6 separate regions of the Homo sapiens genome follow, and all the other regions are reported to be linked to region 3. Evidence: microRNA targets listed by miRTarBase, many of them from high-throughput screens and not tested one by one. Region 3 holds a microRNA gene; each other region holds the end of a gene's coding sequence.
What was found. Region 3 holds the annotated microRNA hsa-miR-21-5p (UAGCUUAUCAGACUGAUGUUGA, at 1,269-1,290, shown strand). A microRNA usually pairs through its seed, bases 2 to 8, with sites in the 3' UTR of a target mRNA and lowers its output. Matches are read on the target gene's strand: a 7mer-m8 pairs with bases 2 to 8, a 7mer-A1 pairs with bases 2 to 7 and ends in A, and an 8mer does both.

Region 1: miRTarBase lists PHF20 as a target of hsa-miR-21-5p. Seed matches in the 3' UTR shown: 7mer-m8 at 2,062-2,068.
Region 2: miRTarBase lists PBRM1 as a target of hsa-miR-21-5p. Seed matches in the 3' UTR shown: 8mer at 3,197-3,204.
Region 4: miRTarBase lists PGRMC2 as a target of hsa-miR-21-5p. Seed matches in the 3' UTR shown: 7mer-m8 at 1,972-1,978 and 8mer at 2,522-2,529.
Region 5: the mRNA of ARHGEF12 is a reported target of hsa-miR-21-5p. The part of its 3' UTR that is shown has no 7-base or 8-base seed match.
Region 6: the mRNA of FBXL17 is a reported target of hsa-miR-21-5p. Seed matches in the 3' UTR shown: 7mer-A1 at 2,225-2,231.

The regions. Positions count from the first base shown.
Region 1 is chr20:35,947,017-35,951,186 of GRCh38, reverse strand. PHF20 (PHD finger protein 20) reads right to left here. Exons shown (of 18, transcript NM_016436.5): 18 at 817-3,702. The coding sequence ends at 3,560. Among named protein-coding and RNA genes, the nearest start is that of SCAND1, 5.4 kb to the left of the region's middle.
Region 2 is chr3:52,544,705-52,548,874 of GRCh38, forward strand. PBRM1 (polybromo 1) reads right to left here. Exons shown (of 32, transcript NM_001405607.1): 32 at 663-3,531. The coding sequence ends at 3,359. Among named protein-coding and RNA genes, the nearest start is that of UQCC5, 10 kb to the left of the region's middle.
Region 3 is chr17:59,840,005-59,844,174 of GRCh38, forward strand. MIR21 (microRNA 21) reads left to right here and starts at 1,262; the gene lies at 1,262-1,333. It overlaps VMP1 (vacuole membrane protein 1), which reads left to right. Exons shown (of 12, transcript NM_030938.5): 12 at 1-2,251. RefSeq lists an enhancer at 308-1,037 and a silencer at 2,323-2,517.
Region 4 is chr4:128,267,942-128,272,111 of GRCh38, reverse strand. PGRMC2 (progesterone receptor membrane component 2) reads left to right here. Exons shown (of 3, transcript NM_006320.6): 3 at 699-2,870. The coding sequence ends at 796. Among named protein-coding and RNA genes, the nearest start is that of PGRMC2, 18 kb to the left of the region's middle.
Region 5 is chr11:120,484,583-120,488,752 of GRCh38, reverse strand. It overlaps ARHGEF12 (Rho guanine nucleotide exchange factor 12), which reads right to left. Exons shown (of 41, transcript NM_015313.3): 41 at 1-3,686. The coding sequence ends at 3,676. Among named protein-coding and RNA genes, the nearest start is that of GRIK4, 25 kb to the left of the region's middle. RefSeq lists a cis regulatory region at 3,145 and an enhancer at 3,073-3,217.
Region 6 is chr5:107,858,135-107,862,304 of GRCh38, forward strand. It overlaps FBXL17 (F-box and leucine rich repeat protein 17), which reads right to left. Exons shown (of 9, transcript NM_001163315.3): 9 at 901-3,726. The coding sequence ends at 3,586. Among named protein-coding and RNA genes, the nearest start is that of EFNA5, 190 kb to the left of the region's middle.

The sequences.
Region 1 (4,170 bases), not on the chromosome of region 3:
GTTGCCCAGGCTGGTCACGAACTACTAAACTTATTTTTTTTAATTTTCTTTCTACAATAATAAATTAGCCTTAGTTCACCATAACTTTTTGTTTTTGTTTTTTGTTTTGTTGAGACAGTTTCACTCTGTTGCCCAGGCTAGAGTGCAGTGGTACGATCTCGACTCACTGCAACCTCCTCCTCCTGGGTTCAAGCAATTCTCCTGCCTCAGCCTCCCAAGTAGCTGGGACTACAGGCATGCGCCACCATGCTAATTTTTGTATTCTTAGTAGAGATGGGGTTTTGCCATGTTTGCCAGGCTGGTCTTGAACTCCTGACCCCAGGTGATCTGGCCGCCTTGGCCTCCCAAAGTGCTGGGGTTACAAGCGTGAGCGACGGCACCCAGCCTTTTATTTAGAGACAGGGTCTCCATCCTCAGCCTCCCTAAGTGCTAGGATTACAGATCTGAGGCACCTTGCCTGACCAACTTTTATACTTTGTAAGCTTTTAAATTTTAACTTTGACTTCTGTAATAACACTTTGTGTTTACACACATGGTACAACTATACAAATATATTTTCTTTATATCCTTATTCTATGAGTTTTTTTCTAGTTTAAATTTTTTATATATATTTTACTTTTTAGATTTTTGTTAAACACTAAGACAAATCCACGCATTAGCCTAGGCCTATGCAGTAGGACCATCAGGACATCACTAGGTGATGGGAATTTTTCAGCTCCATTATAATCTTATGGGACCACCCTGTATATGGGGTCCATGGTTGACAGAAACGTTATATGATGCATGACTGTAACTCAACAATACGTAACTGAAACATAGCAACAAGAACCTGTTTTATTTTTTCCAAATACAGATACAGAAGTCTGCGTGTTTTGCAAATATTGCTTCAAAGCAACATTTCTATATACAGCGCCTTCTGTTCTAATAGCGCGTAAACATAGATATGTATCCACAGTGCAATGTTGGCTCATCAAGGATCCACCTTGCATACACTTACCACTTAAAGAAACAAAATGATTAGTCAAACCGGAACTATTTTTGTCAAGGTAATTTTTTATAGGTGGATAGTTTTTCTAAAGACAAAACTTAGGTAGTGCACATATTTCTTTCTTTTCTTTTATTTTTATTTTTTTGAGATGGAGTCTTGCAGTTGTCGCCCGAGCTGGAGTGCAATAGCGCAATCTCGGCTCACTTCAACCTCCGCCTCCCAGGTTCCAGCACCTCTCCTGCTTCAGCCTCCCAAGTAGCTGAGATTACAGGCGTCCGCCACCACGCCCAGCTAATTTTTGTACTTTTAGTAGAGACGGGGTTTCACCCTGTTGGCCAGGCTGGTCTCGAACTCCTGACCTCAGGTGATCCACCTGCCTCGGCCTCCCAAAGTGCTGGGATTACAGACGTGAGCCACTGCACCCAGCTGATAGTGCACATATTTCTAAATGGTAACAGCAATGTTTGCAAATAACGGTTTCCAGTGCTCCAACATAGGGTTAATTCACCTTGACCCAGGAATTGGGAATGGAGCCCCTCAACATGGCTTTAAATTAGGGAAGCACAATGAGGTTATAAGAACTTGGGGAGTCTTCTCTGCTTCCCTAAGAACAAAAGTCACAATGAATGAAAGGAGATTACTTCCTTTACCAAAAATTTAAACAATAATCCCAATAATGGCCAGTTGGCAAAATTAGGGCAATTCAGTTTCTGCTTACATCGTTGAACAAGACATGAAATTGACTACCTTAAAAGTTACAGCTTCCACAGATGTGATTAAAACTCAAATGTATTTTCAGAAAAGAAAAATCAGTAATCTAATAATACAACAATCATCACGCCTCACAGGTGTGGCTACAGAAAGCCATCCTGTTTCTTCCCTTTTCAGACTGCATGACAGAACTCTTACAATGCAGCTGTCTGAACGTGCATGCCATGCACGCCTGTGCATTTCTTCCCACGCCAGAAACACCAACGTTAGCAGTGAGAAACAGCCTCTTGTAGAGGAATCGTCGTTTTGTTATAGATGTTATAGCCACGTGTATTCTCTCTGATGGACAGCTATAGCAGATCAGCTTATACTTGTCCTATAATTCATTATATATCAAATGGTGAGCAAATCACTAGACAGAACATTCCCTGAAATAGATTTTAGTACAGAGGCCTGAATTCATGTCCACAATGACCTGTGCTTAACTATTCCAAAGGTCGCTAAAGATACTGTTACTACTATTGAGATATTATTGGCTACTTCACGTTTACATAGTAAATGTTTGCAGCATATAACATTACAGACTCATAAACCCATAATTAACTTATAAGTGTTAATGGACAACTGTGCTTTGATTTTTGCCTTTAGTGATAAGAAAACAAAGTAGTGAAATGGGTCACTCCTCAAAGCATGGAACATTTTAACTTTGCCTAGTAAGGAAAAACAAAACAAAATATAGCAATTACATGTGGAACCGTAACCTGCAAAAGTAACACAAATATTGTCTCAAAAGGTACAAATAGGTTGTACCTGGACCTTAAGCAGCATGATCACCTTGCTCTCACAAAATAATACAAACAGGAAATGTAAAATGTTAAAGTATAGTAACAAAACAATTCTGAAAACGCTGACTACTAAACACCCTTCAGGAAGGAGAAAAGTCGCACATGTAGAATTTGAAGTTTGTTTACAACAATATAAAATAAGGTAATTCCCCAAACCACATTCTTTGTAACAAATCTTTACAGTGAAAGAGTTTGAAATTTTGGGAAACATTTTTGGACATTAAATAGAACGGGGAAGCTGTCAATATTAAGAAGTGGGTAGAAAATGCTGTCCTTTGGGTTCCAGACCCTGCCTGCTTCGGTTTGGAATTCCTCCTAGATTCTTATTACTGTGAGTGAGATTCTAGTTCTTCCATAGGCTGTATGGGCTCTGCTACAAAAGCCATAACCCAGCCAGCTCTGGGGTGAAGGCATACAAACTTGTCCCCAGTACCATGAAGTCATGCAAGAGATGTGGTGAGAAAAGTGAAGAGTCCTAAGGAGAAAGCAGGGCAGCCAAGACTCTGCTCTTTCCCAACCTCCACAGCATGGTGAGCTCACAATATTCCTATGAAGCTAGAAAAGGAAAATGATGCCTGCTGCCCAAACACCATGCCAGGAAGAAACCAGGGAGTTGGCATGTGCCCCAACGTGATAGAAAAGTCAATTAAATAAACTCCAAATTGAATTTACAACTGTCTCCAACTAAACTTTTTTGGCTCTCATTCCGTTTATCATCAGTGGCACAATTTCAAGTGAAGTTTGTGCAAAAAGACTCTCTTCATTCAACGATGTGCACAGAAGAGGGGAATCCCAAGAGTCTATTTGCTACCTTTATGGCAGGCTTCGAGATCAGAGTGTCCTCCCGCAGCCAAAATGGCCTCTTTGTCCAATGTCCACCACACTCCTGGCCCAGATCCCTGAAGTCAGTCGGTGTCACGTGCATTCAGCATGCTAGGTTTATTTATTTAAATATGCGAAGCTCCTCCTGCAGGTGCCCCAGGATTGTGCCCCCATGAGTTTTGGGTGCCCAGTTTCATGTTGAGCAGCAGAGGGCGATCTGCTGCACCTTGCCCAGGTCCATCAGCAGCTGCTTGATACAATGCTTGAGCTGCGGAAGCCTGGCCAGCGGCTCAGGGGGCTCCAGTTCCCCAGTGTAGTCCAGCCAGCTCTCCAACACTGTCGGCAGAAGAGAGAGATGAGACCTAGTGAACTCCCAACACTTGATTTGCAAGAACATCAGCAAGCATTTCAGCACCTTATTCCATCAGACATGGGGCAAGGGAGGAAGGGCCATTTCAGCCTCCATGGGGCAAGGGAGGAAGGGCCATTTCAGCCAGCACTGTGTCAACACCTGCTCTACAAAGTGGTACTCCCAGGACAAAACACAAATGCTTTAGAGCAGCACAGTCCAAAAGAACTTTCTGCGATGATCAATGGTCCAAGTCTGTGTCATCCAATACAGTAGCCACTAGCCTTATGCAGCTATTGAGCGCTGGAAACATGGCTAATGCAACTGAGGAACTGAATTTTAAATTTTATTCAGTTTTGGTTAAACAGCCACACATTGCCAGAGGCTACTGTTACCAGAGTCTAGAAGTCTTGGAAGGAAGCACCTTTCTGAGTGTTACCACTCACTCTTTAAAA
Region 2 (4,170 bases), not on the chromosome of region 3:
CTCAAAAGAAAAAAAAAAAAGGAACAGAATAATAGCAATATTTGTTTGCTCAGTGTTCAGATGGGATGTCTAGCTATACATCAATGATTGTTCAAAATATGCTCAGGGGCACAGATGCCGGTACTATCCTAAATTCAGGAGAACAGAACCACAGGGATTTGCAAAGTGATATTAGAGGAAAACAGTTGGTTGCTTTTACCAACACTTTCTATTAAAAGCATGGTCATGTTTTAAGAGTTTATAAAGATGTTAAAGACACCTGGGCCACCTGTTTCTTCTGGCCACAGACAAGCTATTTGAAGTGGGCTATACTGCTTACATGCTTTCCTCACTTTCCGCCCTCAGTAATTCTCCAATTTTAATTTCAACCTGCATTTCTGCCCATGCTGAGGACATGTAGGAATTCCTTGACTGCCAGCCTGAGGCGTGGCGTGGGGCACTTCAGTCTGCAGTCTGACTACATTTGGCTCTGTGTTAATGCAGCCCGAGCCCTGAACCAGAGGTCTGGACACTGACTTTCATCTCCATCTGTGGAGCTTTGTTCTCTTAAATTGGCAGTCACATACAACCTTGTCAGCATGAAATCAGGGCTTGCAGGAGTTAAATCTGCTTGAAACATCTGACACCACTTTAACAGAACAACCAAACCTGGTTAATCCAAATCACTTTGCAAACTCTGTATTTATTTGGATTAAAAAGCTTTAGATGAACAACAAAAAAAAGATACATACATGTTATAAGACTAGTTACCACGTAAACCTCAGATGATATGATACAGAAATTAGAATAAACCAAGTTTTAATCAGGTATGAAAACATTCAAGCTCAAAATCATCAACACCAATTTGGGGATTTTACAGAAATAGGTGCCCCTCTCAATTCTTCCTCATAGGAAGGGGAGAGTGGCTTAAAAAAAAAACAACAACCAAAACAGTTAAAGGCCTTTTAAATCAGTTGGCTGACAAACATACTGTTTTAAACCTACAGGTTCCCCTCAGTCCCCCCGTTTGCAATATAAACAATTCTTCTCCACAGGAACTTACATTTTGAAAACATTTAGGCCATTATACTTTCTAAGCCACATTACTACAGTTCCTAAAACTTATGAAAAAAAGGTGTATAGTTTACTTGTACTTTCTTGAGTCAATTTTTTTTTCTTTTTTGAAGATGGCTGACCTCAAATCTTATATCCTAAATATTAACGATATCCCCCAAGTTAATATACAGAAAAACATGATTCTAAAATAAATACACAGGCTTTTTAAAAAAAACTTAATTAGGGCCTGTCTAGTGATGCCCTGGGCCGGTGCTGCACTGCTTTAGGGAAGCCCCTGGCTGGATCTATGTTTCCTATAGCACCTCTAGGCACTGGGAAGGAGCCTGGAGGAGAGCTCTGGCTTCTAATGACCCACGTGGCCCCCAGTGAAAAATTTTTTTAGAGGCTCCCCAAAGAAGTCTCATCCAGACCTTAAGGGAAATAAAATGAATGCATGAAATAAATAAATAATTTAACCACAACTAAATTTCATGTTCTTTGGTGTAATTCAAGGATGTCTAGAAACAAAATAATCTGATTGCATTATACAGTCCATGATGATTCAATTGCCCAAATAGCCAGGAATTGAAGATTTATCTGACTCACTTTAACAATAAGGTACTGACACACTACTGCAATACATTTTTTTAAATTCAATATTATTTAAAATACTTGATGCAAATTCAAATCCAGTGGTTGACTAAAGGCAATTAAGTTAAAGGGCCTCCCATATTTAAAGTATCTAGATACAAGAGACTTTTTTCCATTCTACACTCTTTTGCCCTCATGATTTAATAAGTACAGTAATTAAACATCTGGGTACTGATTCATAGCAGATTAAAAGGAAAAAAGCATCCTCTGAGATTAACTCTCTCAGATTATAAACAGCAGTGGAAGCTCTACCACAATGGCAATCACCCAGTTACTATAAAGCAGGTTTCAAAAACATGCCGCCAAGTGAAACAATGTTCCTACTGTCTGCCATCCTATGCTGCCTTCAAATGTTTATTGTAGGGTCATATAAGAAAGACAGGGTCACCAAACCCAAGTGTTTGGGATCTGTAATGGTCTTTCTAGTAAGCGTTTTATTAAATTATGATTCCCTTCTCCTGTAATTCAAAAGCACAAGCTAAATTTAAAAAATATTTTAGAAAGTATTAAATTTCTGGTTGAGAATTATAACAACATTGAAACTTAAAAGAAAAAATACATCTGATAATAAGGAAATAAGGAATACTAAAACATACTTGTATATGAAGGCAATCAATCTACTTGTTCACAATTATGCTTCTTATACAGCTCATATCTAGTTCCATACTCTCTTACCCATGTTAGGTTAGGTGTTATGTTTAAAAATAAATCACCTCCATGCATACCTTAATGCTTTCTTCAAGACGAACTTCAATGTTTTTCAATGTAACAGGTTTAAAATTTTAAATCATCTGAAATTTATAGGCATAAATTGTGAATTCATTATAAATAGATCAAAATATCCTTAAACGTACCTGCCTAGATTAAACATACCTCAGGGTTGTGCACGTGTTCTGCAAAAATCACTGACACCATAGTCTAACTCACAGATGTCTAACTCAGCACAATTGAAAAAGTGCTTTTTCCCCTCCTGGTGTCCAGGAGGTACATTAGCTGCAGACAGATGCACAGCACTGATTACATATTTCTGTAGTGAGCCTCTGAGTTAATAGAGCAAATGTGCTGTGTCTATTAAACATCTAAAACCTAAATAACCACCTTTCAAAGAAAGCACTTCATCTGTAAGAAACAGCTTTTGCAGAAAGTGGCTTAAGATATTCAGGCACATGAAACAAACACAAGTATACTCCCCTCTCTAAGATGTAAACTAGGACAAACTTCACATTTCATTATCAATTTAAACTAATCTGTAAACTCTTGTGTGTGTGTGTTTTTTTTCATTTTGTTCTTTTATATATATATATAAAAAAACCCAAAACCAAGAAAACAAAAACCCCAAGCCAAGACAAAAACCTCTAATGGTTTCAGTTCCATGGCAACAAGTAAAAAGATAAAACTCCAAGTCTACATATACAACCAATTATGAAACTGGTTTTAAACGAAGGAAACATATGCAAAAAAATCTTTGTGTATTTGATAAAGTCAACTTAATATAACAAACAAATTGAAATAGCTTATTAAAAGTGTCCGTATATAAAAATGGCCTTGTGATGTACAGTAAAATGCAATAAAAATTATCCTCCTTTGTTCCTTCCCCCCACCCCCAGTAACTAAAATGGCTACTGATCCACAACTCTTTATGCTTCTATATAAAAGAAACGTAATGATGTGATTAAACATTTTCTAGGTTGTATGCTTGGCGAATGTTGAGGGTGTCCCGGAGCATCAAATCTCGAAGGCGCCAGAGGGCATCTGCCATGGTGGTGTGGGCCCCTTTGCTTTTCAGCCAGTGAGAGGGTAGGCGGCTCTCCTGTTCTTTCGACAAATGGACGTCGCGTCTTCGAGCTGAAAATTAAAGTACAGAGAGACAGAAATTAGAATTTTAAGTTGGCAAAATTTCCCTCAGTTCTAAGGTCTGACGAACTTATTAAAACACAAAACATTGAATATTTATTAAATATTATGAATTTTAACTGCAGAATATTTCCAGGCACATTTCTTATATCATTTTACTAGGCACTAAAAGATTTGATCATAAATTTTTTTTTTTTTTTGACATCGAGTCTCGCTCTGTCGCCCTCGCTGGAGTGCAGTGGCGCGATCTCAGCTCACTGCAACCTCTACCTCCTGGGTTCAAGCGATTCTCCTGCCTCAGGCTCCAGAGTAGCTGGGATTACAGGAATCTGCCACCAAGCCTGGCTGATTTTTCTATTTTTAGTAGAGACAGGTTTCACCATGTTGGCCAGGCTGGTCTTGAACTCCTGACCTCAGGTGATCTGCCTACCTTGGCCTCCCAAAGTGCTGGGATTACAGGTGTGAGCCACTGCACCCGGCCTGATCATTATTTTTTTGTAGGCATCCCTGATATTTAATAATTACTTCAATGTTAACAAAAATTCCTAAAAAGGTAAACATGTGAAGAAAGGGAAAATATACCTTCTACTCTAAAGAAATGAAATGAGATGACCAAAGTTGGTTTAGAAA
Region 3 (4,170 bases):
ACCTGTATCAATTTTTACAACTTTTTTCCTGAAAGCAGTTTAGTCCATACTTTGCACTGACATACTTTTTCCTTCTGTGCTAAGGTAAGGTATCCACCCTCGATGCAATCCACCTTGTGTTTTCTTAGGGTGGAATGTGATGTTCAGCAGCAAACTTGCAACAGACTGGCCTTCTGTTTGTTACTTTCAAAAGGCCCACATGATACAATTAGAGAATTCCCACCGCACAAAAAAAGTTCCTAAGTATGTTAAATATGTCAAGCTTTTTAGGCTTGTCACAAATGATTGCTTTGTTTTCCTAAGTCATCAAAATGTATATAAATTATCTAGATTGGATAACAGTCTTGCATGTTTATCATGTTACAATTTAATATTCCATCCTGCCCAACCCTTCCTCTCCCATCCTCAAAAAAGGGCCATTTTATGATGCATTGCACACCCTCTGGGGAAATTGATCTTTAAATTTTGAGACAGTATAAGGAAAATCTGGTTGGTGTCTTACAAGTGAGCTGACACCATTTTTTATTCTGTGTATTTAGAATGAAGTCTTGAAAAAAACTTTATAAAGACATCTTTAATCATTCCAAAATTGTGTCCGTTTTCTTGAGCGTTTTGATTTTTTACTTTTAGCTTATACCAGCTGAATGGCAGCCTTGCCTAATCCACCTACAACAAGAATTTCTTAAGCTTTCTTTTATTTGCATGAGAGAGCCACTACCAAGGCATGTTTTGTTATGCTGAAACTGGGCTGCTGCATACTGCTAAATGGCACCTCTGGGATTGGCCTACCTGGGGATTTCTTGGTTTGTGAAAACAGGAGAGGAGAAATATCTCATACAAGTGAAAGGATACTGGAGAGAGAAATTACCCATTTCTAAAAAAAAACCACACTCTGTCGTATCTGTGTTAATGTTTTCTAGCATGTACTCTGGTTTCAACAGACACAAATTTATATGTTAACCCAGTTTTCTTGCCGTTCTGTAAGTGTTTTATTCTTAGTGTGATTTTTTTCCATTGGGATGTTTTTGATTGAACTTGTTCATTTTGTTTTGCTTGGGAGGAAAATAAACAATTTTACTTTTTTCCTTTAGGAGCATTATGAGCATTATGTCAGAATAGAATAGAATTGGGGTTCGATCTTAACAGGCCAGAAATGCCTGGGTTTTTTTGGTTTGTTTTTGTTTTTGTTTTTTTATCAAATCCTGCCTGACTGTCTGCTTGTTTTGCCTACCATCGTGACATCTCCATGGCTGTACCACCTTGTCGGGTAGCTTATCAGACTGATGTTGACTGTTGAATCTCATGGCAACACCAGTCGATGGGCTGTCTGACATTTTGGTATCTTTCATCTGACCATCCATATCCAATGTTCTCATTTAAACATTACCCAGCATCATTGTTTATAATCAGAAACTCTGGTCCTTCTGTCTGGTGGCACTTAGAGTCTTTTGTGCCATAATGCAGCAGTATGGAGGGAGGATTTTATGGAGAAATGGGGATAGTCTTCATGACCACAAATAAATAAAGGAAAACTAAGCTGCATTGTGGGTTTTGAAAAGGTTATTATACTTCTTAACAATTCTTTTTTTCAGGGACTTTTCTAGCTGTATGACTGTTACTTGACCTTCTTTGAAAAGCATTCCCAAAATGCTCTATTTTAGATAGATTAACATTAACCAACATAATTTTTTTTAGATCGAGTCAGCATAAATTTCTAAGTCAGCCTCTAGTCGTGGTTCATCTCTTTCACCTGCATTTTATTTGGTGTTTGTCTGAAGAAAGGAAAGAGGAAAGCAAATACGAATTGTACTATTTGTACCAAATCTTTGGGATTCATTGGCAAATAATTTCAGTGTGGTGTATTATTAAATAGAAAAAAAAAATTTTGTTTCCTAGGTTGAAGGTCTAATTGATACGTTTGACTTATGATGACCATTTATGCACTTTCAAATGAATTTGCTTTCAAAATAAATGAAGAGCAGCTGTCCTTCTTTCCTCTTTTAAGTGTTCAGCTGTGGCATGCTCAGAGGTTCCTGCTGGATTCCAGCTGGAGCGGTGTGATACCCTTCTTTTTCAGCTGTTCGTGCCTTCCTTTCTTGTATCCACCAAAGTGGAGACAAATACATGATCTCAAAGATACACAGTACCTACTTAATTCCAGCTGATGGGAGACCAAAGAATTTGCAAGTGGATGGTTTGGTATCACTGTAAATAAAAAGAGGGCCTGGGAATTCTTGCGATTCCATCTCTACTTTGTATAAGTCTCATTTTGTGCCTTACACATCTGCAGTATTTATCATGTTCCAACTTGGTGACTGTCAGGCAGTGCAATACATCAGCAGTTTATCACCGAAGAGCTGAGGAATACCTCCCTTAAAACAGACAATGTCGGCCGGGCGCGGTGGCTCACACCTGTAATCCCAGCACTTTGGGAGGCCAAGGCGGGCAGATCACCTGAGGTCAGGAGTTTGAGACCAGCCTGGCCAACATGGCGAAACCCCATCTCTACTAAAAATATAAAAAATTAGCCGGGCGTGGTGGTGCACGCCTGTAATCCCAGCTATTCAGGAGGCTGAGGCAGGAGAATCCCTTGAACGCAGGAAGCAGAGTTTGCAGTGAGCCGAGATGGCGCCACTGCACTCCAGCCTGGGTGACAGAGCAAGACAAAAAAAATAACAGATGATGTCATATGAAAATGTGCAATGTCCAGTTTTCCCATAGTTTTCTGTATTCTCTGTGTGCATAATCTGGAGTATGAGTCTGGGAAGAAAAAGGTTTTTAGTTTCATTTGGATAGTGGCCACCTCTCCATTCCCTACGAATGCTAGAATGAAGTTACTTTTTTTTTTTTTTTTTTTTTTTTTGAGACAGAGTCTTGCTCCGTCGCCCAGGCTAGAGTGCAATGGTACAATCTCGGCTCACTGCCACTTCCGCCTCCCAGGTTCAAGCGATTGTCCTGCCTCAGCCTCTGGAGTAGTTGGGATTCCAGGCGCCCACCACCACACCAGGCTAGTTTTTGTATTTTTAGTAGAGACGGGGTTTGGCCATGTTGGTCAGGCTGGTCTCGAACTCCTGACCTGAGGTGATCCACCTGCCTCGGTCTCCCAAAGTTCTGGGTTCACAGACGTGAGCCACCATGCCCACGTAGAATGAAGTTTCTTAAATACACTAGTTAATTATTGAAACATATGCAGTATTGAGTGCTCCTACACAAACACGCTCAGCCTCTGCCCCCAGTGTGCTCTGTGCTATCCACAGCCTTAGTAGAACATGAGGCTTTTTGTCATTTCACCAGTCATTCAATAATGACTCATTTGAGTATGGATCATGCACTAGCTAAATAACCAGTTGCGCTCATGTACCCTGAAGCAAATTGTTTAGCCTGACCCATGTGTAAGAAGATCACAGAGATTCCCAACCTTTCAGTGTCAAAAAGCCTTTCCATATATATTACTTTAAAACCCATTTTCCCCCATGTGTAATAGTCTATGTTAATGACGGTTCGGGTTTCTTCTACATTGTTTGTGACCTGAGAAAGTTTAAAAGAGCCTCAGTTTCTTTCATCTATAAAAATAAAAGAGATAGAAGGACAGTTTACCTAAGGAATAAATCTGGTAACATGTAAAGTACTGAAATAGGCTGGGTGCAGTGGCTCATGCTTATAATCCTAATACTTTGGGAGGCCAAGGCAGGAGGATCCCTTTTAGGCCAAGAGTTCAATAAATAGGGCCGGGCATGGTGGCTCACGCCTGTAATCCCAGCACTTTGGGAGGCCAAGGTGGGCAGATCACCTGAGTTCGAGACCAGCCTAACCAACATGGCGAAATCACATCTCTACTAAAAATACAAAAATGTAGCAGGCACGGTGGCACATGCCTGTAATCCCAGCTACTCGGGAGGCTGAGGCAGGAATCGCTTGAACCCAGGAGGCAGAGGTTGCAGTGAGCCGAGATCTTGCCATTGCACTCCAGCCTGGGCAACAAGAGTGAAACTCCGTCTCAAAACAAACAAACAAAAAAGAGTTCAGTAAAAGTACAGCAATAAAAGTTATCCACCTCCACCACCCCAGCTTTTTTTTTTTTTTTTTTTTTTTTTTGAGAGTGAGGTTTTACTGTGTCACCCAGGCTGGAGTGTGGTGGCACAGTCATGGCTCTTTACAGCCTTGACCTCC
Region 4 (4,170 bases), not on the chromosome of region 3:
AGAAATTGCAAAAAATAGCTAAATAAAAATATGATTGTTACATGTGATAATTATTTTGAAAATCAATATTTAAAAAAATGACTTGTTACAAATTCTAAGCCTCAAAAATTGTGATACTTACAGTCAGCTTCTTCATTAAGGTTTAGTTTTTTAAAAATACAGGCTTATATTTAAAACTGAGTTGATTACTGATTTCAATACTATAATTTATTCCAAAATGATTTTACAGATCTTAACACTCGAAATGTAGATAAAAAATATCTTTCCCCTTTCTTATGCCCTCATAACATCAGTTTTTACCACTTGTGTGATGCTGTCCCAGCTGTTTATCTGACCCCTGGGTCCCTTGGAACAGCTGTTCTGGTTTAGCTGGGTACTGAGATGGGTCCTGGACTTACTCATTTTTAAAAAAGATCTCCAAGTGATTCTGATGCAGTATCCAACTAAGAATCACTGGTACAGAACACCCTCTTGCAAAGAATTCCCAAGCCTTATAAGTTCCCTAATCCTGTTTTCTTTTGTTCAGGCTTTACATGTGTATAAAGACCAGCCATGGTGAAGCAATTTTAGAATATTTAGATAATATTCTAATAATCATATTTTATATGATTCTAAAACAGACAAATGCCTTTTCTCTGTATAATGGAATAGTGAAACAAATTTGATCACCACTGATTTTCTTTTGATGTATCTTTCAGAAAAATATGATTATGTAGGCAGACTCCTAAAACCAGGAGAAGAACCATCAGAATATACAGATGAAGAAGATACCAAGGATCACAATAAACAGGATTGAACTTTGTAAACAACCAAAGTCAGGGGCCTTCAGAACTGCAATTCTTACTCCCTTTCACAGACTGTCCGGAGTCTTTGGGTTTGATTCACCTGCTGCGAAAAACATTCAACAAATTGTGTACAAGATAAATTAATCTCACTATGAAGATTTGAATAACTAGACATTATTTATGCTGCCAAACTCATTTGTTGCAGTTGTTTGTAATGTCTAGTGGGGCTTCATCATCCTGAAAAGAAGGAGACAGGGATTTTTTTAAAGAGCAAGAAAGTCACAATATTACTTCTTTCCTTCCTTTTTTCCTTCTTTCCTTTCTTCTTTCTCTTTCTTTCTTTTTAAAATATATTGAAGACAACCAGATATGTATTTGCTACTCAAGTGTACAGATCTCCTCAAGAAACATCAAGGGACTCCTGTGTCACATACTGTGTTTTTATTTTAACATGGGTGAGGGAGGCGACCTGATCAGGGGAGGTGGGGGTACACATCAATTTGAGTTGTTCAGGCTACTGAAACATTAAAATGTGAATTCCCAAACTTTTCTTTTTGGCTTTGTCAGGGAAAAGAAAAATATCTTTATAAAGAAATCTTTGGAAATTAGGAGAAGGAATTTCAGGTGGGTTTAAGTCAGAGCTAGTTCCCCAACAGAAAGATCATTTGAAACCAGTTTTTATCCCTTCTCTTTCCTTCCCTTTCCCTAAATCAAATCAATATTAATTGTGCCTTATTTCACTTAACATAGACTTGAATTATTTTTAGGGAAAGCCCCTATAATGAATTCAGAAATCACTACAAGCAGCATTAAGACTGAAGTTGGAATATTCTGTTGACCATAAAACCTTGATATCATTCTGTGTATATAGAATGTAAAAGGAATATTACAGTGTTAACTGCCATATATGTAATATACACAAACTCAATTAGCATTGTAATGGCCAAATGCATTCCCCCATGCTTTTCTGTTTTCAAAAAAATTGAAAAACAAATCAACTCTTATCCCCAACAGCTGCCTAATTTTAGGAGTCTGACCCTCCACATCTCACTGGTGTGGGTGCATGGGGCTGTGGAGTGGGTGTCAGTATGGATGTGTCTGAATGTGTGAGGCCTTGGAAGGGACTCTTTCTGCAGATACTGTAAATACAAGTACCATTTTAATAAAGCATGTACAATAAACCAAAATAAGCTTGAGTTGGACTTTATATACAGAACTGTAAGCCAGTGCATTATGATACAGTTGTAAGATTGTGCATTTGATTCAAGATAAGGAAAAATCTTGGAAATGAAAAGCAGGCACTGGTTAACCAAGTTGTACACATTGTACCACATTCAGCATAACTTTAGGAAGAAATTCCACTTTGTGGAACATTCTCCAGAAATCCAAGATTATTCAGGTAAGAATTGGTATATTAAATGTACATCTTTTTACTTTCTATTTTGATGCCAACTGATTATACTAGACAATTAGCACTCCAGGTGGTTATTGAACACAAAACAGTAAAAGAATATTGCACTGATAGATACTAAATTATTATTTTATTAGGTTGAAAAAGCCCTTACTAAAAGCCCCTCATATATCAATTACTTTATTTCATTATGACTACTTAGGTTCCGGGCTGGGGACAAGTTCACTTAAAAAGGCAATGTTATTTAACAGGTCACCAGTTAAGACTTCTGCTTTGTAGATACATGCAGAAGCCATCAAACAAGGGGGAGCTTTTAACTGCAACAATAAGCTAAAGTATGTAAAATACTACATTCTATTCAGTCTTGGAGTGTTTTGTAGAAAGTTATCTTCAGCCAAATCTTTGCTGAAGACTGGTTGTGGAGTGTTGGTAAATGCTTTGTGTTTTTATGTAAAATATTTTCTAAACAAAAAATGTTAAAAGTACATGTCCTCTGTAGTAAACTGATATCTATATATATGAATCATTCAAGCCTAAAGTCTAGTAATAAACTGTACTTGTGAATAGAGAAACCCTAAATATTCATGCAGAAAAAATTATGCGGTCTGTTAAGAAAAATGAGTAATTTGTGTTTTGGACTTGAAATAAACAGTGTTCTGTAGATAATTCCTCAACTTCAGTTGAATGTTTCTCATTCTCAGGTAGTTTTTCAGGCAGTATTTGAATGAGGGGACCAGACAGTGCTGGTATTGTTCCTTTGTTCCTGTTCCCCGCTCCCCCCTCCACACAGACAGACACATGCACACACACACACACACACTCCTGCTTAGCCCTATTTTCGAAACTTGCCTGATAATTAGAATTGCTTAAGGTACAGATTCTTAGCCTTCAATCCAGACGTACCACCCGCTAAGCCAGAATCTTTAAGAGAATGGGCCTCAGAATTTATTTGTAAGGAATACCTCAGGTAATTCTGATCAGGAACACTTAGGAAACACTGGTTTTTCAAGTTAATATTGACCATCTTTGTTAGGCACTTGAAATGGCCTTACTCAGGTAATTTTGGTCTGATTCCCTTCATCTGGTTTTGTGTCATTCAGAAGACTTCACAAAATTCTAATGTATGATTTTAGAAAACAGCAAATTTTGATAGTCTTTAGATTTTTATCTTTGGGTAGCATTTCCAAGTTGTCATATTTCCCACATTAAATCTACACTGTGTGTACTAGCCAGTTTCTCTGCATTAGGAAATGAACCCATAACAGTTACAGATCAGGTTTTTAAAACCTTGACCATGGTGCTAAGGCTGCTTAGGTTTCCTAACAGTAATTCTACGTGCCTTTCTGTAGGTAGATCTGTTTCTGCAGGTAGATCTTCAGAATCCAACATTACACCTACCTTTACCCACATTCTTGAACCTAATTTGCTGAATTACCACTGGGAGATATTTTGTTCTATAGAAAACAGATATTTTCTACAGAATCAGGCTGTCCTTATCCAAGTATTTCACATAACCTCTATTGATAACAGAAGTGCAGCAAGTTGCTAGTAAGATGTGCCATTAACATGTTAACAGTGTGTAACTACAGAGCTTTTATGTGTCAGAATAAGCGGGTAATACTGTAGTAAAGAATTTATAAAACTTTCAAGTTGCTTTGAGTATATTGAAAATAAGAGTCATGGAATATTGTAACAGTGATACTGAATGAATTGTTCTAATTAAAGTAGCAAATGCTTAAAAGATAGCTTTTGAGTATGTTCCATTAAGGTCAGCCATCAATTTGTTAGATGATACTCATCACTGATTATTTTCTATTTGACTATGGCAAGAAAGCTCCAATAAAGACGACCCAACTTTCCTGTTTTTAGGCAAAAACCATCATTCCTAGGCACTGTTAGAAAAGCACGTACAGAAAAATTGCCATACTCCTGAGTCACTTTGAGTACCAGCTTTGCATTTGTTCTACCACCACT
Region 5 (4,170 bases), not on the chromosome of region 3:
CATGATTGTATGGTGAACAAGGAAAATAAAATGTTCTAGTAGGAAGAGGCTTATTAAAAATAACCAACAGTGTGCACATGACAGTTACCATTTTTGGAATATATCTGCTTAGCAGTTGGCACCTGGAAATGGTGGGGAAGGCTTCCTTCTAGGAGGTACTTTTTTTTCCTACCAATTTATTATCAAAACCCTCAATACCAGTGGGGAAGGCATAAGGAATAAGGCAAAAGGAACTCTTTTCTTGAGGAAAGAAAAATTTTGTAGATGACTCTGAAAAGTGGTGGAAATATCAGGAAAAAAATGACTTATAAAACAAAAATTGTAATATAAGGGGGAAAAACTAGCCATGAGGAAGCTGACTGTGAGGCCCTGCTAATTTTGTATTTTGAGGTCCTATGCACGCAGTTCTCAGTGGTGCCCTCTGTGACATATAGGGAAGGAAATACTGACCAAAGCTCTAGTAATTCAAAACCATATATCGACTTCAGAGAAGAAAGCTTCCACTTTGAAATATGGAAGCCCCACGTATTACACCAAATTTACTAACATCAAAGAGGAAAACAAAGATGCCAGTAAAAGACAATTCACAGGAAGCATAATTACTTTCTTTAGCTTCTAAAAATAATTTTTAAATGGACTTCTCTATTATCCCTCCTAACTCAAAATCAAATAAACAACAACAACAACAACTTTTTAAAAAGGGGATTCATCCTTCATTGGCAGTTGCTGTGGGAAAAAAGAAAGCCAAAAAGCTCATAAAATATACCTCCCATGAAATACAATACATAGTTACAATTTCGGTTCTAAAAGCCAATGTAATTCAAGCAGTCCAAGTTAGGTGATTTTAAAGTATGCAAAATATATAGCTTCGAAGGTGGTAATCATGATGTTAAATTACAGCACTTTGGGGGCTTGCTGATTTGCCTTGATTAACTGTTCTCTGAAAAGGAAGGAGACACTCTACATGTAATTTGCCACTTCATAGCAAAGGAACCATTAAGCCCACAGAAGAGAGCACAGTGTCACAGCAGGTCACTTCCATAGCTAAAATGCAGCCTGCTTGCTCTGGGAAGGTAGCTTTCTTTGTACACCACCCCTGTGCCCTTTAGCAGGGAAGTAGATTTCAACTTCTAGTCACGTCACTTAGAAAAAACTCCTCTGATGGTGACCAGTCTCACTCAAAGACAGACTGCATCTAATTCCATCATCCTGAAAGGAAGATGTCACAACCAAAGTCAAACGGATGTGACTATAATGGCCAAAATGAAATGGAACGTGTGGGAGGCCAAGTTGGGAGGGAAAAGAGAAGTTAGGTCGGTAAGATAAAAAGAACATTCAAAAATTGTGAGATATTTTCAGAATTAGACTTCATCTTGGGGCTTTGTTTGAAAATCTAGATATGAATTTATTTGGAAGTACTAGAGCTATGGTCAAAGTATTTTTCCAGTTAGTCCTGTTAGAGTTCCAAGGAGAAATTGAACTGCAGGGAAAGCAAATAATTACTAAGGACAAGACACTGGCTGAACTAGAGAAACTGAAATTTTGCTAACCTACAAGCTTCTTAATTGAGTGCTAGAGAATTACATAATTACCCTGTAGTGTGTGACGTTAAGAGCAAAGTTTTTATATTTACTTTTCTCCTGATTAATTGCCCTCGATGGTGTTAGTGTCAAGTGGCTACAGGTGTAACCCTTTTAATTGAGAATGACATTATTTCTAGCAGCACAATGTAACCATTTGGTTTTTACTTGTTCCTCCTAAGAGATACAGAAAGTTCCAAATCCCAAACTTCATTTATATATTAGCTTCTGCTTCTAAAATTTTTAATCCCATTCTGAGTTAGATTGTACTTGGCTTATGACTAAAAATATAATTTCAATTTATAGATGAGGTCTAAAGATCCAAGTTGATCCACCTAAAAACACAGATCAATTTAGGACAGAAACAGAAATCTGGACATAGATAAATAAACTTGTTAAGTTGCAGTGGTGTTTATAAAAGTAGGTGGGCATCCCTTACCATTTGTGGTGAAAAAATCATCTTTGGACTGCAGGGAAGCATTAAAATTACATCCTAGCAACCCACAGAGTTCAGAGGGCACCAATGAAAGATGTGAGCAACGGATGAACTCCTTGTTTATTAACAGAATTTACAGACTTCATTTTAGTTGGCAAAAATACTTCAAAAAATATATACCTAATGCACAAGGAAAACCAAAGAAAGTCAATATAATTGAAGGAGTTCTCAAATTACAATTCTGAAACTTACCCTCTGTAGGGTGCTGCTAACGCTACTATTCATCCTAGAGCAGGCAGTTACCAACACCTTGCCTGCAGTGTCCAGTGTATGTGCTGGTCTGCAATTTTTAGGGTCAATCACGGCCCCGTGTGGAAAGAGCTGCGGCAGTGAAGTCAGAGGACGTGCTTCTGGAGCTGGTGTGAGCAGTTCTGCCTTCACCATATCTTTTTCCACTCCACCCTTGGCTATCCTTTTGACTCAGGGCCCTTTGGCACCATCAGTGCAAAAATTAGAGTCAAACCTCCAGGTACTAAAATTTTACTGGCCTTATAATCAGCAGTACCTGTGGCTAATGATAGCCATGATTCAACTCAGTAGTGATTCAGTTAGATAACCTTCCCAAACTCTTTACCCACTCCCATCCCACCCTTTCCTTAGCAACCCCCACCCCTGCCACTATCCGAAGCATTTCCATTTGTTTTTACTTCCTGCTCAATCTGCAGGGACAGTTTTACACAAGTGCCAATGTCTAATGTATAATTATAAAAATGAAATGATACCAAGAATAACAAATTTATAGTCAAGAAAATAAAATTTGCTTTCCTCTCCCACCCAAATCCCAACCCTCAATAGAAAAGACGACAATGGAAGAAAACACACCCATTTTCAAGTGCCTGCTATTTAGTATGTTGAGGATTCCTATTAATTGTGGTTGATCCCAGCTACAGAGAAGAGGTGCTTGCCTCAGGGCGGGAGGAAGCCCATCCACTCTCTGACCACACCACCTGGGCACATAAGAGCCACACGGCATAGCATACCTTTGAGGTGACCCTCAGAGAAGCAGCCTACTGGACAGCAGAGAGCTTGGAATACTGTATAGTGAAGCAAGGTGCTCCTCCCTTCCCCGTCTCACTTCCTCCTCTTCTTAACCTCTCTACCCAACTTCTGCATACTCCATCCTGACCTCTTTGCTTCAGGAGCAGTTGATCCTTGGGTGTACTAAAGACAAAGGTCTAAAACTCTCACTACTCAATTAAAACAAAACAAGGCAAATAAAAATTAAAATGTGCTTTCAAATACGGAATGAAGTCAAATAAATACATCTGATTTTCTCTTTTTCTTAAATCTAAGTACAATTTCATATCCTACACCCAAAGCTCTATACATTTGGTTTTTATTCTGAATCAAAATGAATTTCCGATAGTGAGGAGAGTAGAGTGAGGGAATGGATATTCCCTCACAAACAGATTAGTGCAGCTGCCACACTGTGAAGAACTAGTCCCACTCTGGGCACCTTGGGACTTGACTAATCCCAGGTGGTTCACAGGCAGATCCTCTGTCACACTCTCTCTGCATCCACACTGGAGCCAGGATGTGGTGAGACACGGCCGATACTCCAAATCCAACAACCTGCAGTCACCTCCAGGACATGCGGCTCTAACTTTTATCTGAGAAGAATAAAGATACATGGAAATGATATTAAGAAAAAGAATATACTAACATTGCAAAGAATACCCATGACATCTGTGGGCGTGGTTCAATCTTTGTTTCTGAATCAGTATGTAAGCAGATGAGTATAAACTGCTGCAGGGAACACAAATCCATCTGCAGTCAGGGGAGACACCAGCCACACTGTCAGCAGAGGCAAGTGCACCAACATCCAATAAGGCCAAATCCTCCACACTAGGGAGTCACAGCAGTACCAGTAAGCCTCACACCGAATCTGTGATTTACCAGGCTTCCCACTGCTCTGCCTTCTGCTTTGAAAAGGTGAAAAGAGAGAGAAGAGGGGATGGTATGGGAACTGACAACTGCAGTTCCTCTTAGAGAAGAGTAGAGTCAGCAGGCATGAGCTTCCGCTTGATATCTGATGTTTAGAAACAGGCAGTTCTTTAAAGACAGAAGAGAAATGGAATCTCAGAAGGTTTTCAC
Region 6 (4,170 bases), not on the chromosome of region 3:
TTCCCGCTACTTCTCTAGCCTTCATGAAAATCCTCCTCCTCTGTGGAGCTCTCCCTTCCCAAAGCTGCTGCTCGGCCCTAGATGCGCTCCCCATAATTATGCCCATCATTATATCTATTGTACTCCACTGTTATTGCTAGTGCCCCACAATGTCCCCTTGTTAGGCTGTGAGTAACTTGAGAGTGGGAGTGAGTTCATTTATCTTTAAATTTCCAGTGCCTATACGTATTTGTCACTCAATAAATGTTTTATGAATTTATTTACTTTGGAAAAATAGAATATATGGCTATATAAATGATGACTATTTAGGAAATGGGATTTTAACAACTCATTTGATACGGTTTGGCTGTGTCCTCATCCAAATCTCATCTTCAACTGCAGTTCCCATAATCCCCACGTGTCGTGGGAGGGACCCAGTGGGAGGCAATGGAATCATGGGGGTGGTTTCCCCCATGCCATTCTTGTGATAGTGAGGAAGTTCTCATGATATCTGATGGTTTTACAAGGGGCTTCTCCCTTTGCTTGGTTCTCATTCTTCACTCTCCTGCCACCTTGTGAAAAAGGACTTGTTTGCTTTCCCTTCTGCCACGATTTTAAGTTTTCTGTGAGTCGATTAAACCTCTTTCCTTTATAAATTACCCAGTCTCAGGTATACCCTTTTAGCAGCATGAGAATGGACTAATACACACTTATGTAAATCCTTGAGATTTTAATCTTATCTCTATAATCACCAGCCCAATTAGAACCTCCTAAACTCAGTCTCGTTTATTATTCTGGGTTAGTCAAACCTACATAAGTCTGTAGTGAAACACAGAAATACACAGACCACTGCATGCATCATACCCAACCAGCATTGGGGAGGTCATTTATTGTCTCTAAAATAAAACAAAAGACACAGTGTTTTGTTTCTCTTTTATTGCAACCCACTGCAAGGTCAAAGATTCACGGAAATATAGAAACTACAAACCGGGTGAATTTTCTTTATCCACTCAAAAAGACATTAAAGACAAAGGACCAGAATTTTCCACTACAGCAATATATTTCATAGTCTTTATTCTGAAAATACTGTTGACATTTTGGAGAGAATAAAAAGCCCTGCATTAAACGTGTTCACATGTATTTATGACATTCTAAGCAAAAAAAAGAAACTCTATATTGCCCAGAAAAATTATTTTAAGCCTCATTTCAAAGCATCTAATGAGAACACATTCAACAACCATCACAGGACCACTCAAGGTGATGCTTTTTTCTGGCTGTTTTTTTTTTTTTTTTTTTTTTTTTTTGAGATTAATGCTTTGAGGCTGGATATGGTATTTCTACGGATTTCTACAAATGTACCAAAGCAGTTTTCCAGATTATGTTGCATCAGGCTTTCTGGATTAGTCAACATTTTAGAGAATAAGTGCAAGTCCCCACCCCACCCCCACCCCCCCAAGCTAAAGCATGTTATAGTGCTGTACTTTAGATTCAAACAATGCAACATTTAAAAAAATCAATTATACATTCTGAAACCATTTGACAACCAAACTGTAACACTCCAAAGGTTATTACAACTTTGAACTGAAATGGTACCATCTATATCATAGATGGCTCTCCCTTCTTTTGTCTTTTTTAACTATTTAAAATATAGTATGACATATATAAAAATTAAACTTTTGCATATTCACTCAAGCTACTATTACTATACATACTGTCTTATAAATTAGTTTTGGATTAAAAATCAGTTAAAATATTGTGAAATAAGATATTTCAGTGGTGGGGAAGTGGATATGAAAATGATACAGTTCAATGTGTAAGAAGAAATATAGTTTATTAATGTTAAACAGCTTTTTTCTTACACAAATTTTATTCCCTTCAAATTAAATTAGAAACCCATTTAGTTATGGGAAGAATACTCATGGCGCTTACTGACTAGATTTTCCTAACCGATTGGGATTAAAACAAAAATGCCACATCAGAAACATGTTGACATAATCAAAGGAAACAGTTGTTTACAAAAAAAGAGAATCATTAGAAATCAGTAAATGGCATTCAAATGTAAAGCTATCTTGTTTCTTACAGCTAATGTCATGTTAGCAATGTGAGACTTAAAGAAAGTGAAACTCAAACCTCAGTATATCTGTTAAAGACCAAATAACAGTTATATTCACTCAGGGAAAAATAAATAGCAACTTCACAAGTTAGGGTTTTGTTTCTAGTTCTACTGTGAAAGATAATCACTCTTTAGCTTAAAAAGGCTCCCTGATGTCCTCATTATAAATCTAGACACAGGAACAGTTATTTGAGCCTGAGTCCCTATTATGAATTAATTGTAAAGATGTGTTAAATCAAAACATATATTCATTTACTGATAGGTCTTGTCTTAACTGAAGCTGGCAATCCTTAATTAAACAAAGAAATGCTTATTTCTGACAAGTGTAAACAGAATTTCAATGAACAGATTTTCTAATTTTCTTTCTTAACTCATATATTAGCTAGCAATAGATCTTTGCAGTAGCATGAGAACTAGTCCAAAATGACAACATGCATATATCCAAAAAACCTGTTCAAGAACCCAAAGCAAAGCAAAAAGAGCAACAACAGTAGAAAGATTGTCTACTTATATCTCACTCATGAATCTTCTATTAATGTGACTACCCTCTCGTATCTCAGAAATAGACTTTAATAATTACCAAAATTAAGAAAATAATGAAATGATCTGTAGTTTTTAAAATAACTGCACACCATTAATTACATTGGTGGCTTCAATGCTAAGATTAGTTTCAAATATCATTAAAATATATCCTGACCAGTTACTATCCAGGAAATAAAAGCTAACACAATGTTAACATAAAACCAACTAAAATATTTAGTGCTCAACAGAATGCATTTGTAGAATAATGTATAATTAACTTTCGTGAGCTGGCCAGGAGAGTTCAGACTGTTGCCTCTATATAACAAATTTAGAAAAGGCTTTATTCTTTCTAGTCCCCAAGTCACCCACCAGATAGCAAGTTGGCCACCCGAGGATACACGGAGTTAGGCAGTGCCACAGTGGATAACATGCTACCTTAGTGGCCTGGAAGAAGGCTTCTCTGTCAGGAAACGATCTAGAGTAGATCAGAGCCCTGGTGTAGATGTGCACACGTGTGAATATGTGAGAGAGTGTAAGTGCCTGTACGTATAACATCACTTCTGCTGTAGTCATCATCAGTAGAAGTGCACAATTCATCCCATGTAAAAAGAAGGCCTTCTTACTTGGACATCTCCAAGTGGCAGCAATTAGAAGCTCAAAATAATACATCCAATTTTTTGACTCTATATTAAAAATAATTTTTTTTTAAAGAGAAAGAAGCCTTTGAAGTTAAAAACTAAAAAGTTTGTGGCTTTCATAATCTTTAATTTCTAAGAAAAAAAGCCAGCTCACTTGGGAACAAATGACAACTGCACTTTTGGTATGCAGTATGCAAACAAGACACAAATACACATACTTGAACACACACAGACAGGTGACAGTTAAAACCCTTCCGAGAGATCAGCTCCCCAAATGTACAATTCTCCTCTGCTCTGCTGAATGATCCCAGTGGACTAGGCGAGGCAGGAGCGCTAGGAGGAGGCGGCAGACATGTTGGGGGTCCAGCCCATCTGATAGGCTCTCTCCAAGGTCCTCTTGCAGTCCTGCAGGACGGTGCTGAAGGTGATGTGGGGGTACTGCTGCACCAGCTGTTCCACCGTCACTTCGTTGACCTGCAAACAAAGAAGAGTCACCATCACGCACAGAGACCACCAACACCACGCCGCTGCCCACGCTCACTGATGTGCTGCAGCTGGCTCACTGTGACACGAAGAGCCCTCGCCTTGTTCCTCCTAGCGATGTGAGGAAGGGTTTTGTGAGGAGATATGTGTCCCATTTCATCTGACCTCTCTGATCTCCCAGTAACACACCTGCCCTTAGGGATTTTTAATGTAACATCAAGAAATCAAAAGTGTTTTCTAGAAGCATAAATGACTGTGATTTGTCAAGATCTTAACAATGTCCATTGAAAATCTAGTGCTTGGGAGGTAAAGAAGCAGTAAGATAGCTAATGTGCATTTGACTTCATCATCAACCCGACAGCCTTTTTAGGACAAAAATTGTGGAATGCCGGAGAGGACACACTAGATTCCAGACAGAAGTGTTGGGGAAGATGT